Linked DNA regions of Homo sapiens. The protein of the gene in region 1 interacts with the protein of each later gene in a pairwise test. Each region holds a gene or a part of one and is shown in the gene's direction. Other genes may lie near its edges.

Region 1 (8,322 bases):
CAGGGGTGACAAAGTATTTCCTTGGTGGTCAGGATATTCTGGGGGTTGAAAGTGTGCATGAATGCAAGGAGCCTCCAGCAGGTGGGGCTAAAGGATAGGCGAGACATCTCCAACAGGGGAGATTGAGCTTAACCAGGACCCAAGATGGGAAATGCCCCAAGTAAGGTAAGAGATAAAAAGGAGAAAGCTAGCAACAGTAATATTCCCCCAGGCCTAATGTTAAAATGTTAGAAGGATAATGAAAGGACCAAAAACAAAAGCAGCTGCTGTCCCAGACCCTTCTCCTATCTCTGATGTCCCCTTTCTTACAACCCTGCCTCTTGAGAATCGTCCCAAGAGCCCACTCACTACCGACCTAAGTACCTTTCCCTTAAAGGACTTCAACGTGAGATAGAGCAATGTAAAAAAGATATTCAGAATTTCCCTTTCCCCTCTTCTCGGGGGAAGAAAGAGACATGATCCATAGAGCTGCTATGGGAGCCTAGGAACACGAACACCCTCCTGGCCAAAACGTTCCTACAGCAGATCAAAAAACTCCCACCCAAGACCCCCAGTGGGACAATAACAACGCAGCCCACCGAGAAAATATGCAGGACCTTAAGGAATTGATAATAAAGGGGATTAAAGCATCAGTACCCCGAGGCTGGGCGCAGTGGCTCACGCCTGTAATCCCAGCACTTTGGGAGGCCGAGGCAGGCAGATCACAAGGTCAGGAGATCGAGACCATCCTGGCCAACACAGTGAAACCCCGTCTCTACTAAAAAATACAAAAAAATTAGCTGGGCATAGTGGCAGGCGCCTTTAGTCCCAGCTACTCAGGAGGCTGAGGCAGGAGAATGGCGTGAACCCAGAAGGCGGAGCTTGCAGTGAGCCGAGATCACGCCACTGCACTCCAGCACTCTAGCCTGAGCAACAGAGCAAGGCTCCATCTCAAAAAAAAAAAAAAAATTGGTACCCCGAACTCAGTATCTTACCCGAATATTTGATATACAGCAAGGGAAAGATGAAGGGCCTATAGAATTTTTAGATAGATTAAAGGAACAAATGAGAAAATACACTGGTCTAGGTCTCAAGGATCCTCTTGGGCAGGGAATGTTAAAACTTCATTTTGTCACTAACAGTTGGCCAGATATTAACAAGAAATTACAAAAGATAGAGAACTGGAAAGATAAACCTATAGAAGAGCTTCTAAGAGAAGCCCAAAAGGTATATATAAGAAAAGATGATGAAAAACAAAAGCAGAAGGCAAAAATTCTGCTGTCTACCATACAACAAAGTACCCAGGGGGCCAGAACCTATAAAGAACCTAGACTGAGGGCTGGGCGCGGCGGCTCACGCCTGTAATCCCAGCACTTTGGGAGGCCAAGGCGAGCGGATCACGAGGTCAGGAGACCAAGACCATCCTGGCTAACACGGTGAAACCCCGTCTCTACTAAAAAAAAGCAGCCGGGCATGGTGGTGGGCGCCTGTAGTCCCAGCTACTCGGGAGGCTGAGGCAGGAGAATGGCGTGAACCCAGGAGGCGGAGGTTGCAGTGAGCCAAGATCGCGCCACTACACTCCAGCCTGGGCGACAGAGCGAGACTCCGTCTCAAAAAAAAAAAAAAAAAAAAAAAAAGAACCTAGACCCCCACTCTCCAGGCAATATATAGAGTATGAAAGAGTAAAGCCAGGAGACTCAAAAGTAAAGAAAAAAAAAACTTAGAGGAGAGAGAAAGACTGACAGAACAGACAGAGTCAAAGAGAGAGAGACAGGCAAAAAGGGAAAGAGAGAGGCAGAGAGAAAGGCAAAGGGAGAGAGTCAAAGAGGAAGAGAGAGGCAGAGAGAGAGGCAAAGAGAAAGAGTGAGAGAGAAAAAGAGGCAGAGAGGGAGAGGCAAAGGGAGAGAAAGAGGACAAAATAAATGTTTCAGATTAAAAATAGGTCACTTCAAAAGAAAATGTCCCAAATGGGAAAAAGAACAAAAGTCATATATAAAAGCAAATCAGCTAATATTAAATTTCTGTTTATTCCAGAGGCAGGAACAAACCTATTAGAGAGATTTAATGCTAAAATTTGGCTTAGGCCTCTATATTAATCAGGGAAGATTCCTCCCCTCCCTAAACTTGCTCCCCACCACAGACAAAGAACTCATTCATCCCAAGGTATGGTCAAAAGACGAGAATCGAGGAAAGTTACAGATTACTCAGTTTCATGTTAAATTACAAACCCCTGGGGAAGTAGTAAAGAGAAAGCAATGTATCCTATTCCTTTCAAAGCCGAGGTAAATTTAAAACCTATAATTGATAATTGAAGGTCTTCTCCGTGATGGATTTCTTAAACCCTGTATGTCTCCCTATAACATTCCAATACTGCCTGTAAAGACGCCAGACAGGTCATACCGGTTAGTGCAAGACCTTAGAGCTATTTTTTTTTTTTTTTTTTTTGAGACAGAGTCTTGCTCTTTCGCCCAGGCCAGAGTGCAGTGGCACTATCTCGGCTCACTGCAAGCTCCGCCTCCCGGGTTCACGCCATTCTCCTGCCCAGCCTCCCGAGTAGCTGGGGCTACAGGCGTGTACCACCACGCTTGGCTAATTTTTGTATTTTTAGTAGAGATGGGGTTTCACCATGTTGGCCAGGCTGGTCTCGAACTCCTGACCTCAAGTGAACTGCCCGCCTTGGCCTCCCAAAGTGCTGGGATTACAGGTGTGAGCCACCACGCCTGGCACCATGTTTGTTTTTTTAAAAAGCAGATCACCACCCACTAAATTAATTTTGCAAACCCACTGACGTCCATATCCTGCAGTTTGAAAAACACTGCAATAAATATTGGTAGGAGGTAGAAGTTTTACCCTTAGCCCAGGCTGCCAGTCCTGGCTTCCTTCCCTTTGCCTCTCAGCTGTGCCCTGAGCCTGCTTGTGACTAAGCCAGACCCAGGCCAGCTCAGCTCTAGCTGGACAGAGGAGCCACCATGTAGCTGAGAGCCCTTTTGTAGCGCGCCGAGAGCTCAGCCTTCTCTGTGTCTCTCAGGCTTTCCCTGCAGGAGTCATCAGGCAGCAATGATGTGGATTCTGTCTCTACTGCAACCCTCAGCCCAGCTATGAGAAAGGCATTCTTCCCATTGCTCAGATGAGAAGCCTGAGGCCGATCAGGGTGAAGTGACTATGGCATAAGGACAAACAGGACTGGTCCGCCTGTGAAATTCAGAATGTGAATTAGGCAGGAAAATTGGCTCTCTAGAAAATACTGTGGAAGTGCTGAATAGGATTGATAGGTGGCTGTGGAAAAGAAAGTGCTAGAGACACAGAAAACCGATACAAAAATGGGCAGGGCGGCCAGGCGCGGTGGCTCACGCCTGTTATCCCAGCACTTTGGGAAGCCGAGGCGAGCGATAACTTAAGGTCAGGAGTTCGAGACCAGCCTGGCCAACATGGTGAAATATAAAATTTCTGTACCAAAAATATAAAAAATTAGCCAGGTGTGGTGGTGCTCGCCTGTAATCCCAAGTACTTGGGGGGCTGAGGCAGGAGAATCCCTTGAACCCTGGAGGTGGAGGTTGCGGTGAGCCAAGATCATGCCACTGCACTCCAGCCTAGCTACAGAGCAAGACTCCGTCTCAAAAAAAAAAAAAAAAAGGCTGGGTGCAGTGGCTCACGCCTGTAATTCCAGCACTTTGGGAGGCCCAGGTGGGCAGATCATGAGGTCAATAGATCGAGACCATCCTAGCCAACATGGTGAAACTCCGTCTCTACTAAAAATATAAAAATTAGCTAGGCGTGGTGAGGCACGCCTGTAGTCCCAGCTACTGGGGAGGCAGAGGGAGAAGAATCCCTTGAACCCAGGAGGCAGAGGTTGCAGTGAGCCGAGATCGCGCCACTGCACTCCAGCCTGGGCAACAAGAGCGAGACTCTGTCTCAAAAAAAAAAAAAAAAAAAAAAAAAACTTTGATCAACAATTTGGAAACTGCCTGTTCTTTTAAAAACGCTCTTTCAGCTGCTGCTAATCCGAGTGTATATTCAGGACAACTTGAATCTCTGCTCCGAGTTGCAGTCTTCGAACTTGACCCAAAAAAACTCCCTGCTTAAATTAGGCTCGCCTCAGTTTTCATTTGTTTTCCTTTAGGCGGACACAGACGAGGGCCACTTAAAGGATGGCCCCTAAACTCCCGGTTGAGTTCTTTTACATATAAAGGGCATCATGCCTTTGAGGAGCTTAGCTTTACATATTAAATGGAGAAACAGAACCTGTCAACATCTGTAGGAAGTGGACAGCGCCAGTTATAAACAGGAGGCCAGGCAAGGTGGCTCACGCCTGTAATCCCAGCACTTTGGGAGGCTGAAGCGGGCGGATCACTTGAGCTCAGGAGTTCCAGACCAGCCTGGCCAACATGGCGAAACTCCGTCTCTACTAAAAATACAAAAATCAGCCCGGCGTGGTGGCGCGCGCCTGTAATCCCAGCTACCTGGGAGGCTGAGGCAGGAAAATCACTTGAACCCGGGATTTGGATGTTGCAGTGAGCGGAGATCACGCCACTGCACTGTAGCCTGGGAGACAGAGCGAGACTCTGTCATTAATAAATAAATATATGTAAATAAAATAAAGCAACAAGAGTTTGCAAAATCCAAAACCACGGGGACTTCTCAACTGCCTTTTCTCCCTTAAGTACCCTCCATTGCTACCCCTGCTCCATCACCTCCTCTTCCGGTCCCTCCTCTAGGGCCCGCCCACCCCTTCCGTTTCCGCCCCGCCCCGCCCCCGCCTTCGCCCAGACCAGGGCCCGCCCGCCTCTTCCAATCCGTTCCCCGACGGCCTGCCCATTGCTTCCGGTCCGTAGCTGAGGCCCCGCCCCTTCAACTGTGCCTCAGCCCGCCATTCCCATTGGCGGAAAATCCCAGACGCCCCTCAAATTGGAGAGGGACAGATGGGCGCTGTGGCTCACGCCCGTAATCACAACCCTCTGAGAAGCCGAGGCGGGCGGATCACGAGGTCAAAAGATCGAGACCGTCCTGGCCAACGTGGTGAAACCCCGTCTCTACTAAAAATAAAAAAATTAGCTGGGCGTGGTGGCGCGCGCCTCTAGTCGGGAGGCTGAGGCAGGAGAATCGCTTGAACCCGGAAGGCGGAGGTTGCAGTGAGCCGAGATCGCGCCACTGCACCCCAGCCTGGCAACAGAGCGAGACTCTGGCTCAAAAAAAAAAAAAAAAAAAAAAAAAATTGGAGAGGGACGCTCTTCCGCCTGCCTGTACCCGGAAGTGACGTTATGTACGTCCCCCCCCGAGGAAGTGACGACAGGCGTGCCCTTGACAGGCAGGGAGGGCTAGGCTGTGCATCCCTCCGCTCGCATTGCAGGGAGGTAGGAGCCCTGTGGGGGTGGCTCGAGGTGGTGTCGCGGCTGAGGCATGCCGCGAGCGCGTTCCTGCGCAGGCTGGCGGCCGGGCGGGCGGGGGGATCTAGCTCGCCGGAGAGCCAGGGTCCCTGGTGATGTCCGATTTTTCCCAGTTCCCTCCACACATGTCCCTTCTTTATTGGTTCCCTCCAGTACATGTCTCTTCGTTTTTGGTTCCTCTCACACTCTTAGTTCCTCCTTGAATTGTTGCGTTTCATCTTTTCAGACGACCCTGGGTTCCAGTGTTGGCTGTCATTTAATAGCGGGGTTACTTTGGGCATGTCACTTAACTTACTTGAGCCTCGTATTCCTTCCCTTACTCGCAGTGTGGGCAGTACAATAGCAACTTCCTGGAAGTTGCTGTAGGAAGACCAATAATGTGTGTAAGGTACTTGGTCCTTACATACATTATTAAATCTGTTGGTTTCTTCCTCCCATTCTTCCGTTATAATCTAAATCCCGATTTCTTTTTGGTTGTGAAGCCAGTTTTCCTGTCCTTCTGGTTTGCCTAGCTGTTCCTTCCCTTTGATTCTCATTGCTTCCTCACTTCCACGCTACAAATCTTACATATGATTTCCTTGCATTTTGCTTCCAACTCTGCCTCTTCCTGAGCCCTGAGTACTCCCCAAATCTTTTTCTAGTGTGTCGACTTCCTTTTGTGTGCCCCAGTTCTTCTGCCTCTTTCCCTCACAGATGGCTCAGCGACTTCTTCTGAGGAGGTTCCTGGCCTCTGTCATCTCCAGGAAGCCCTCTCAGGGTCAGTGGCCACCCCTCACTTCCAGAGCCCTGCAGACCCCACAATGCAGTCCTGGTGGCCTGACTGTAACACCCAACCCAGCCCGGACAATATACACCACGAGGATCTCCTTGACAACCTTTAATATCCAGGATGGACCTGACTTTCAAGACCGAGTGGTCAACAGTGAGACACCAGTGGTTGTGGATTTCCACGCACAGTGAGTATTGGGGGTCCACAGAAGACTAGGGTCCTACTTGTTCAAGTATTTATTGAATGCCTGCTGTGTCCCACGGCCATGTTCTATGCTGCTCATATGTAGACTCAATATACAGACTGGTCAGGCCCAGTCCCTGCCCTCAAGGGGAATGCAGTCTGGTGGAAGACAGACAAGTGAACAGTCTGCAAAGCTGACTGTTAGTGCTGGGAAACACATGTTCTGTTTCTCAATCCCCAGAAAGCTCAGCGTCATCTTTAGCATGGACCAGAGTTGGAAAAATATGACTGTCACCTTGCTTTTGGTGTATACCAGTTCCTGGCCCTGCAGATAAGCTGATGTTAACATCCTGCCATGAAAACCGCAAGAAGGGCTGGCAAAAAGTTATCAGTGTCGGCCGGGTGCGGTGGCTCATGCCTGTAATCCCAGCACTTTGGGAGGCCAAGGCGGGCAGATCACCTGAGGTCAGGAGTTCAAGACCAGCCTGGCCAACATGGTGATACCCTGTCTCTATTAAAAATACAAAATTAGCTAGGCGTGGTGGTGTGTGCCTGTAATCCCAGCTACTCGGGAGGCTGAGGCAGGAGAATCACTTGAACCTAAGAGGTAGTGTTTGTAGTGAGCTGAAGATCGCGCCATTACACTCCAGCCTGGGCAAAAAGAGTGAAATTCCATCTCAAAAAAAAAAAAAAAAAGTTATCGGTGTCACTACCGTGGTGCCCAAGCATACAGGGCATAGGAAGGAGTTTCCTTTCAGTGCTATCTGAGTTTGCTTTAGAGATATTTAAGTCCCTCTGGCCTTCTGAATTTTAGCCTGGGCTTTTTCATTTCTAGATCTTTGGGGCCTGGCTAGACACCCAACTACACAAAAGCTGGACAAAGCCCTCTGAATGAGGCATCCTGGGAGAAACCAGTGTAGCATAAGTTAAAAATTCAGGGGCCTTCAGGTCGGACGCAGTGGCTCACACCTGTAATCCCAGCACTTTCAGAGGCCGAGGCAGGTGGATTACCTGAGGTCAGGAGTTTGAGACCTGCCCAGCCAACATAGTGAAACCCCATCTCTACCAAAAATACAAAAATTAATCGGGCGTGGTGGCGGGCACCTGTAATCCCAGCTACCCAAGAGGCTGAGGCAGGAGAATCGCTTGAACCTGGGAGGTGGAGGTTGCAGTGAGCTGAGATCGCGCCATTGCACTCCAGCCTGGGTGACAGAGGGAAACTCCATCTCAAAAAAAAAAAAAAAGAAAAAGAAATTGAAGGGCCTTCTGGTCAGGTCTCTGACAGATTGTTTCGCTGGCTTTCCAGTTGTTTCTCTGACTCACCCTGTGGCCTTGGGCAGGCCACTTGATATCTTTGTGCTCCCTTTCTTCACTTGTAATAGGAGATAAGGTCTTGCACACTGGGTTTTTCAGTGTTATGAGTTGTTTTTGTTTTTCTTCTTTTAGAGACAAGGTCTCACTCTGTCACCCAGGCTAGAATGTAGAGTGCAGTGGTGCGATCACGGCTCACTGCAGTCTCTACCTCCTGATCTCAAGCAATCCTCCCACCTTGGCCTCCCAAAGTGCTAGGATTACAGGCATGAACCACTGCGCCAGGCCTGAGGGTTTTTTTTCCTTTTTTGTTTTTGAGACAGAGTCTCATTCTGTCACCCAGGCTGGACTGCAGTGGTTCAGTCAGCTCACTGCAACCTCCACCTCCCGAGTTAAAACAATTTTCCTGCCTCAGCCTCCCAAGTAGTTGGGACTACCACCCAGATAATTTTTTTGTATTTTTAGTAGAGACGGGGTTTCACCATATTGGCCAGGCTAGTCTCTCAAACTCCTGACCACAGGTGATTCTCTCCCGCCTTGGCCTCCCAGAGTGCTAGGATTACAGGTGTGAGCCATTATGCCCGGCCTATTTTTCAGCATTTAAAACCGTCAGGCCTGGCTGGGTGCGGTGTGCACCACCACACCTGCTACTCAGGAGGCTGAGGCAGGAGAATTGCTTGAACCCGGGAGGCGGAA
Region 2 (8,112 bases), on another chromosome or scaffold:
AGTATCACACTGTAAAAATGTATGTGCCCTTCACCCATCAATTCCGTTATACTAAAATATCTCTAGGAAATAGAGATACATGCAATTTGTTTTTCTCAGCACTGCTTAAAATAGCAGTGTATTTGGAAAACCCCTTATAGTGGATTTTATAAATTTTATAAATTTATCAATAAATTTCAGTGCATCCATAGGATGGGACAATATGGGACCTTTGCAGATGTCAGTAGATACAGATGTATGTTGAGGTGTGAAGATGTACTCTGAAAAAAAGTTGGTTTGATTATACATACACACAAACAATCTATGGTGTTAGTAAGCCAAATATGTGTACAAAATATAACATTTCTTCTTTTCTGGCAGGTGTATTGTGATATTTTTTCTTATCTGTGATGTATAAATGATCAGCATGTTTAAAACTTCTAGTAAATGTTTTTTATTAATGAAATTATCCTTGGGAAAAGAAGAAATATAAATCTTGCAAAGAAAAAAAATTCTCAGTTTCTATTTTATTATTAATTTCTTCGTTTGTTTGTTTATTTTTGAGATGGAGTCTCACCCTGTCGCCCAGCCTGCAGTGCAGTGGCATGATCTCAGCTCACTGCAATCTGCCTCTCAGGTTCAAGTGATTCTCCCACCTCAGCCTCCTGAGTAGCTGGGATTACAGGTGTGCGCCACCATGCCCAGCTAATTTTTGTATATTTTAGTAAAGACGGGGTTTCACCATGTTGACCAGGCTGGTCTCAAACTCCTGACCTCAGGTGATCCCCCCGCCTCGGCCTCCCAAAGTTCTGGGATTACAGGTGTGAGCCACTGTGCCTGGCCTTATTTTTATTTTTTTGTTTATTGGTATCTTCTGTGAACTTTTAGCCTCTTCAGAGGCAGAGGGAATATTTTTATTTGTGCTTGATTATTTTATTATGCATAGATTTTAGTATATACATAAGTTTTTATTATAGTTTTATTACATATAAGGAAACAATTTTAAATTAATTATTTTAGTTTATCAGTGTCCTCATGAAAATGAAAATGAGCAAATATAAGTGATTATCACTATTCCAAAAGCACTGCTTTAATTTATAGTTTTTTTCACAATAAACTTCCCAACTGTATGTATGCATTCTTTCAATCCAGTTATTCATCAAGCATAACCTGAATACCTATTATGTAGCAGACACATTCCACCATCTCTCAGGACTCTTCCACCCTTAACAACTTCATGTTTACCTGCCCAGCCTGAGCAAGCTGAGATTTAAAATGGAAGCATTAGGACTGAATCCCAGTTGGATCTTTTATTCCTTTTTTTTTTTTTAAACAAAAGCAATTCTGAAGTTAGAAAATAGTGAAAGATAACCTTTAACTGCCATTTCAAAAACTTATGACAGTCTCAAATACTACTATTAATCATTGCAAATACCTAATTTACATAACATTCTGTAAGTATTGAAAAAAATGAGCCATACCTATTCATTTGAATCCTGAGTTTTCTTTGGATTATTTTTTTTTGAAAGTTGAAGTAAGAATTACTTTGTTTTAAAAATTTGTTTTTTTATTTTTGCCTTCTTTTTCCACAGTACTTCATTTAGGTGCCAATTATATGAATAGAACTGCCTGTTCTATGAACTGTATCCCACTTAATGTAAGGCATCACGGATTGGGTGATGCCACATTACTTTATATATCGATAAGATAATGTTTAAAATGTTGCCAGTTATAAATGTAATAAATAATGAATTGTAAACAGTTTTCCAATGTCAGGAGATGTTAATATATAAGAGAATAGTAGCTTATATAAGAGAATAGTGAGAAAATGAGCATCTGAGAATGACTGAAATACAATGATACATCTAATCTTTAATAGATACCTCAATGTAGATATGATTGTATCATTTTACTTAATTAAAATGTCTTTGTCTTTGTAAGTAGTGATATCTAAAAATTATTGAGCTGTTATTTGTGTTAGAAAGTGTTCTAAATGCTGTGCATAGATTCTTATGTAAGCATCACAGCAGTGTTCTGTGGGCTAGCTACTATTCTCTTACATATTTTATTGATAAGGAAATTGAAGCAAAGAAAGGCTAAATAACAGCTAAGTGACAGAGCTTACAGTAAATTTTAAGCCCCAATTAAACTGAATCCAAAAGCCAAGCCTTTTCTATTAAATAGCCTGCTCTTTCATTAATGTGGTGAGTAATAAGCGCTAACAAATGTTGTACTTTCTTCACAAGAAAATTACATATTTGTTTTGAAGACAGAGAAATAACATGCTAATTAATGCTTACAGTTACATGTTTTAAAAAGTCCTGTCACTCTCACAGGACTGCCCTACATTTGGCCTGTGCCACTGGCCAACCGGAAATGGTACATCTCCTGGTGTCCAGAAGATGTGAGCTTAACCTCTGCGACCGTGAAGACAGGACACCTCTGATCAAGGTACATAGTAGCTGACTCTTTGAGCATGAGATGGATTTGGTTGAAGTACATAGGATAAAATGAATTTATCTCATTGGAATACCACCATATAACTAGTAGGAAATCCTACGGAGTGTTTATTTTGATTTTTTCAGTATTTGCATGTTTCTCGGTCTAATACTGACAGGCTGTACAACTGAGGCAGGAGGCTTGTGCAACTCTTCTGCTGCAAAATGGCGCCGATCCAAATATTACGGATGTCTTTGGAAGGACTGCTCTGCACTACGCTGTGTATAATGAAGATACATCCATGATAGAAAAACTTCTTTCACATGGTACAAATATTGAAGAATGCAGCAAGGTATAGGTCAACCAATGTTATTTTCAAACTATCTGAAATGCATTTATTTTAACATTGACACATGTAAGGGTCAATTTTTCATATTTGGAAGCTCAAACATTCCTTGAATGAAAATATTTTGAAATGCCTTAACTGTCTAAGATTTTACTTTAAATATTGGAACTTTTAAAGAAGCATTATAGGGAACAGCCTTTTTTCATGCACTTATGGTAAATAACTATAAAAACAAATGAATTACAATAAATTTATAATTCATGACAACTGAATTTGGGAAAGGTAATAGTTAAGTGTTTTTCCACTAAATTACTTTTTTTCTAATCAGTGTGAAGTGACACAGGAAAGTAAAATTGTCCCTTATAAATAGGCTTTATTTTAAATGTCAAAGAAAATTAAAGAATTTCACAATAAATGTACATGTTGTTGCTGTTGACAAGTGTTGTATGTGAAGGTGATTTCATTTGAAAGTGATTCCTCTGTGGAAAGGCTTAAGAGGGAAAAATGAAGAAAAGGAGAGCAATCAGAAATGCACAAGCTAATTTGGAAATTAGGTAATGAGGGAAAATACTGTGGAGAGGGTTTTTGTGTGTTTTGTTGTTTGTTTTCAATTTATATGTTTAGACAAAGATCGCTTCAGTTTTGGGGATGATTATTCTTACTTTGGGAAAGAGTTTGTGAGTTGTGAAATTGCCCAGGGATCAATTTTGGTAAGACTCTGAGGAAACCAGGTTGGCAGTGAATAGTGGTGATGAAGCGGCACACAGTTCAGCAGAGAGAAGAACACATAATTAATGGACATTATTCAATTCTGGCAGAAACAGCCACTCAGATAAGCATCTAAACTCTACTCTCAAGTCCAGAATGTCTTGATGGGCAGGTGGGAGATACGGAGCTTATAAATAGTAAAATCAAGTTGGATTTTGAGCTTACTAGTCTCTTCCCTACCCCTACCCAGGAAAAGTAAATGAAGTCTTCAGTGAATGGCTCTATCTTTTGCTCTTTCCTCTTTTCGGCCAAATCCCAAACGATAAAGGGAATTTGCCACGTGGGTGAGAAATGAGACTGAAGTGATTATCAACTGTGCTGGTTCGCAGTTAGAATTGTGCATGGCAGTAACCTGGGGAAATTAAAAGCAAATCTCTAAGTCTAGGATATCCCCTGAAGATTTTAATATAGTAAATCTAATATTTACTATTAAATATTACTGGGCATGTATGTTTTAAAATATTTCCTTGAAGCTGGGCATGGTGGTGCCTCTAGCCAGAGCAACAGATTAAGACACTGCCTCTAACAGCAACAACACAACAACAACAACAACAATAAAACATTTCTTGGGACACTGATACGCTGCTGGTTAAGAACCACTGAATAGATAAGTGTAATATAAATTCCCATATCTCAAACACACAAAAAATCTCTAGAAGAGCTGGAGATAGGTGCTGCTTCCTTTAAATTTCTCCTTTCCAATAATATTGGCCTGACTTTTACCTGTCTCTACCTCTGTGGTTGGGAAGTGGAAAGGACTATTATTTGCAGTATCTATCAGCATAAGAATAACACCTTTTCTTTGCCACCATCACTTATTCACTGCCATTCATAGGGTCATTAGAAATTTGCTATTGTGGACTCTTTTAATAAGTAGAGACTGACTCTTTCAGGACTCTGAGTCTCTTTGTTATCATTCTGGTGATTAGGTCAATACATCATTATTAAAAGCGGGGTTCTCTCAATTACAATAGCAAAAAATTCTAAACCTTTTTTTAAAGCTGAAGCTCTATTATGGACTGCCTCAGTATGTCAGTTAAGTACATAGAACTGTGGCATAATCAGGATAGCAGTTTTAAACACTGAAAACCATGAAGTTAGTAAGAATACAAAGAATACATATAGGTCATTATTAGAGCTTTAATTGATAAGCCATTGTATTTTTATTTCTGATTTATATTTTACCTAAAATAAAAAAAATTAGGTTACAATATAGAAACTAGAATTATAATTTAATATTATTTTAATAATTTAGTTGCAGCAGTCCTATGAACTAATTATCCATTTGGTGAACAATCTGGGAAAATTAAACATAAATTATAAATGAATGAATGTTGTAAAAGTGCTCAAAGTGGGTATTATGACTCTTAGTAACAATTTTTATTGCATTCTTGGGCCTATTTTGGAAAAAAAATCTGAAACTAAAGAAAGGAAGTATTTTACATGAAAATACTTGCTTTACATACAATCGCTTGGAGACATATCCATAGCAAATATAAAAATACAAGGTATATAGTCCAAATGTGTCCCATACATGTGTTTAGTTTGCGTCTACAAATTGTCTCAACATGGAAGGTTTAGGAGACTCGTGCACAGATCTGGATTCCAAGCTTCTCTTCAAGAATCCAATCTGGTGTCCCTTGAGCCTATCTCAGGTTTTGGATGCTGTGCAGAGGTTGCCCCTTTCTATGAGGCATGTGGTCTCCATTTTGCTACTGTGCCTACCTAGGTACTTCACTTCCTCAGGTCATCTCCCTTGCCTCTGTAGGGATGACTTTACAAGCCCTGTTTTATAATATATTTTAGTAAATATTTCAAGGTTTTCAAGACATTTTATATTTATTTAAATGTAGAGTCTATATTTTATATAAATCCTTTGGTAATCGGGTTGAACTTTTGAATTTAGATGGTGGTGTTTTATAAACTATTTATACATACCATAAATAATCATCTTCCCATTAGAATGCATGTAAGCTTTTTAAGGTGAATCATGGTATAGTTGCATAGGTTATGCATATTGCAGACAACATTATATTTTTCTCTTCAGCATTGCCTCCTAAAAATGCAAGTAATTGGCCGAGCGCAGTGGCTCACGCCTGTAATCCTAGCACTTTGGGAGGCAGAGGCAGGTAGATCACGAGGTCAGAAGATTGAGACCATCCTGGCTAACACGGTGAAACCCCCTCTCTACTACAAATACAAAAAATTAGCTGGGTGTGGTGGCACACGCCTGTAGTCCCAGCTACTCGGGAGGCTGAGGCAGGAGAATTTCTCGTGCTTGAATCCGGGAGGCGGAGGTTGCAGTGAGCCGAGATGGCACCACTGCACTCCAGCCTGGGTGACAGAGCGAGACTCCATCTCAAATAAATAAATAAATAAATAAATAAATGATGCAAATAATTTAGTGGTTTTCATTATGCTATAAATAATTCATATAGGTCATTATTAGAGCTTTAATTGATAAGCCATTGTATTTTTATTTCTGATTGATATTTTACCTAAAATAAAATAAGTTAGGTAAGAATGAATTGGAAACTAGAATACAAATAGATTTTTAAAGGAGTTATGTACCAGGGTCCTAAGATTATAATTACATAAATATTTGCATCAGGGTCCTAAGATTGTAATTGAGAATAACATTTCATACAGAGCTTTCTGACAGCTAAGATAAAAATATTACTAGAGAAAACCCATGGACTATTTAATAATAAGCAGTGAAAGTTCACTCGAAGCCTATCTCTATTAATTCAGAGCCCGGCTCTCCGAATTAAAAAGAGATAGGCTTCAAATGAACTGTCAATCGTGTCAGAATCTCAGATGACAATGTCAGGTGCTCAGGTGCTCAGGAGCTCCTGACATTGTCACCTGAGATTCTCACACCATCGATAGAAGAGAATGAGGCAAGTGTGTATCACCCAGAGGAAACCTCTACCTTTACTGGTAAGCTCTCACAACTGTATCCCTGAAACTCTCATTTCTCAAATGTTAACATTCTCCAAAATAAGTATTTACAAATAGGGATTAGGTGAAGTTCAAAAGATTTCTCAAATACTAGACACATAATGCACAGTTTTGTAACATTTTTCAAACATGGGTGATCATGGAGTCTCTCTTTTGGGGTATAATGTTCAAATTCTGGTAAAGTAAATATCCTTTGGAATATATTAATAGTTTAAGAAACACCGCTCTATAGATAATAATTTAGATCATTAATAAAAATACCTGAAACATTTATTACTGTGTCTTAGAGTTTGAGGACATAGAGAAAAAAATACAGCTGCTGCCCTCAAGAAGCTCTTGGTTCAGGTGGGAAACAATTAAATCCTTGAAACATGCCATGCTAAATGCTGGGACAGAAGCAAAGATTCTTGGAACTGGGAAATGTTTGAAGTGAGTTTTGGAGATGACCAGAGTTCTTGTGGTGAGGCAGAGGAGGTTGTTTCCAGGGGAAGGAGCAGAACATAGAAAAGCACCGAGGAGGGAAAAGAAAGGGACTACCTCTTACGACCTTTCAATTGTATATATTGAAGCTCACAGGATCTTACATAAGGTTTTCATTTCAGTTGATAAATATGTAATTTTGTGATTATAAATTGTTGCTGTTATTTTACAGAATGAATATCAGCCACTGTTACTTGCTGTGAGTCGAAGAAAAGTGAAAATGGTGGAATTTTTATTAAAGAAAAAAGCAAATGTAAATGCCATTGATTATCTTGGCAGGTACAGACCTTAGTTCTTATTGTGTTGTTTTTAAACCTGAGTGTCATTTTAGAGTGGTAGCAGTCACTCAAGTCACAAATATTACATTAGTAAGAAGACTAACTTTTAATTACTGGGATATAGTGAGAAATATCAACACAGATCATCACTTAGGTAGAAAAACAATTATTTGGACTGAGTAACATAAAGAACAGTGTATAGCAGGATTCATCTCTCTCTATAGACATTATACACATAAAAGGCTTCTATATATAGAAAGCTCTGTATATTGATAGATGTTTGTTATTTGTAAGATGATGTGGTGTTATTTACAATGTAATAATGTGATGCTTTTGATTGTATGATCTTACATTAGCTAAAGGGGTTTCATGTTAGTTTTTCATTTCTACTGTGTTTTGATGTTGTTTTTAATTGATATGGGGAGGGGGAAAAAAGATAGCTTTAGATGGATAAAACTTTACTTCAATGAAGACAAGCTTTAGGTTCACACAGGACTGGGTTTAATCCCTAGCTTTCCCACTTGCTAGATGTGTGACCTTGGTAACATTACTTACCAAGTATGTTTTCTTCTGTGAAAAGGAGGGTAATAATATATCCTTCAAGGGTGGTTGTGTGTAAGTAACATTATATATATATAATGTTAGAATGTCCAGCTAACAGAGCAAGGTGCTGATGTTTTGGAAACAATGGCTGAGCATATAAGTATGTGCATATAATATATATACACACATATGTATGTAAGAATATAATGTAACTAACATCATATATAATATATAATATATACAATATATATTTATAGATAATATATAATATACTATATATTATATATTTTATAGATTATATATAATATACTATATATA

The links.
Region 2: the proteins of TXN2 (region 1) and ANKRD36B interact in binary tests that used the Homo sapiens proteins (3 or more experiments, as listed by UniProt).

The regions. Positions count from the first base shown.
Region 1 is NC_000022.11:36,478,572-36,486,893, reverse strand, and holds the start of TXN2 (thioredoxin, mitochondrial precursor), read left to right. Parts: upstream 1-5,253; 5' UTR 5,254-5,330; exon of another isoform or gene 5,331-5,751; intron 5,752-6,056; coding exon 6,057-6,319; intron 6,320-8,322.
Region 2 is NC_000002.12:97,579,602-97,587,713, reverse strand, and holds part of ANKRD36B (ankyrin repeat domain-containing protein 36B), read left to right. Parts: intron 1-2,315; coding exon 2,316-2,430; intron 2,431-2,596; coding exon 2,597-2,770; coding exon of another isoform or gene 2,771-2,776; exon of another isoform or gene 2,777-3,203; intron 3,204-7,145; coding exon 7,146-7,252; intron 7,253-8,112.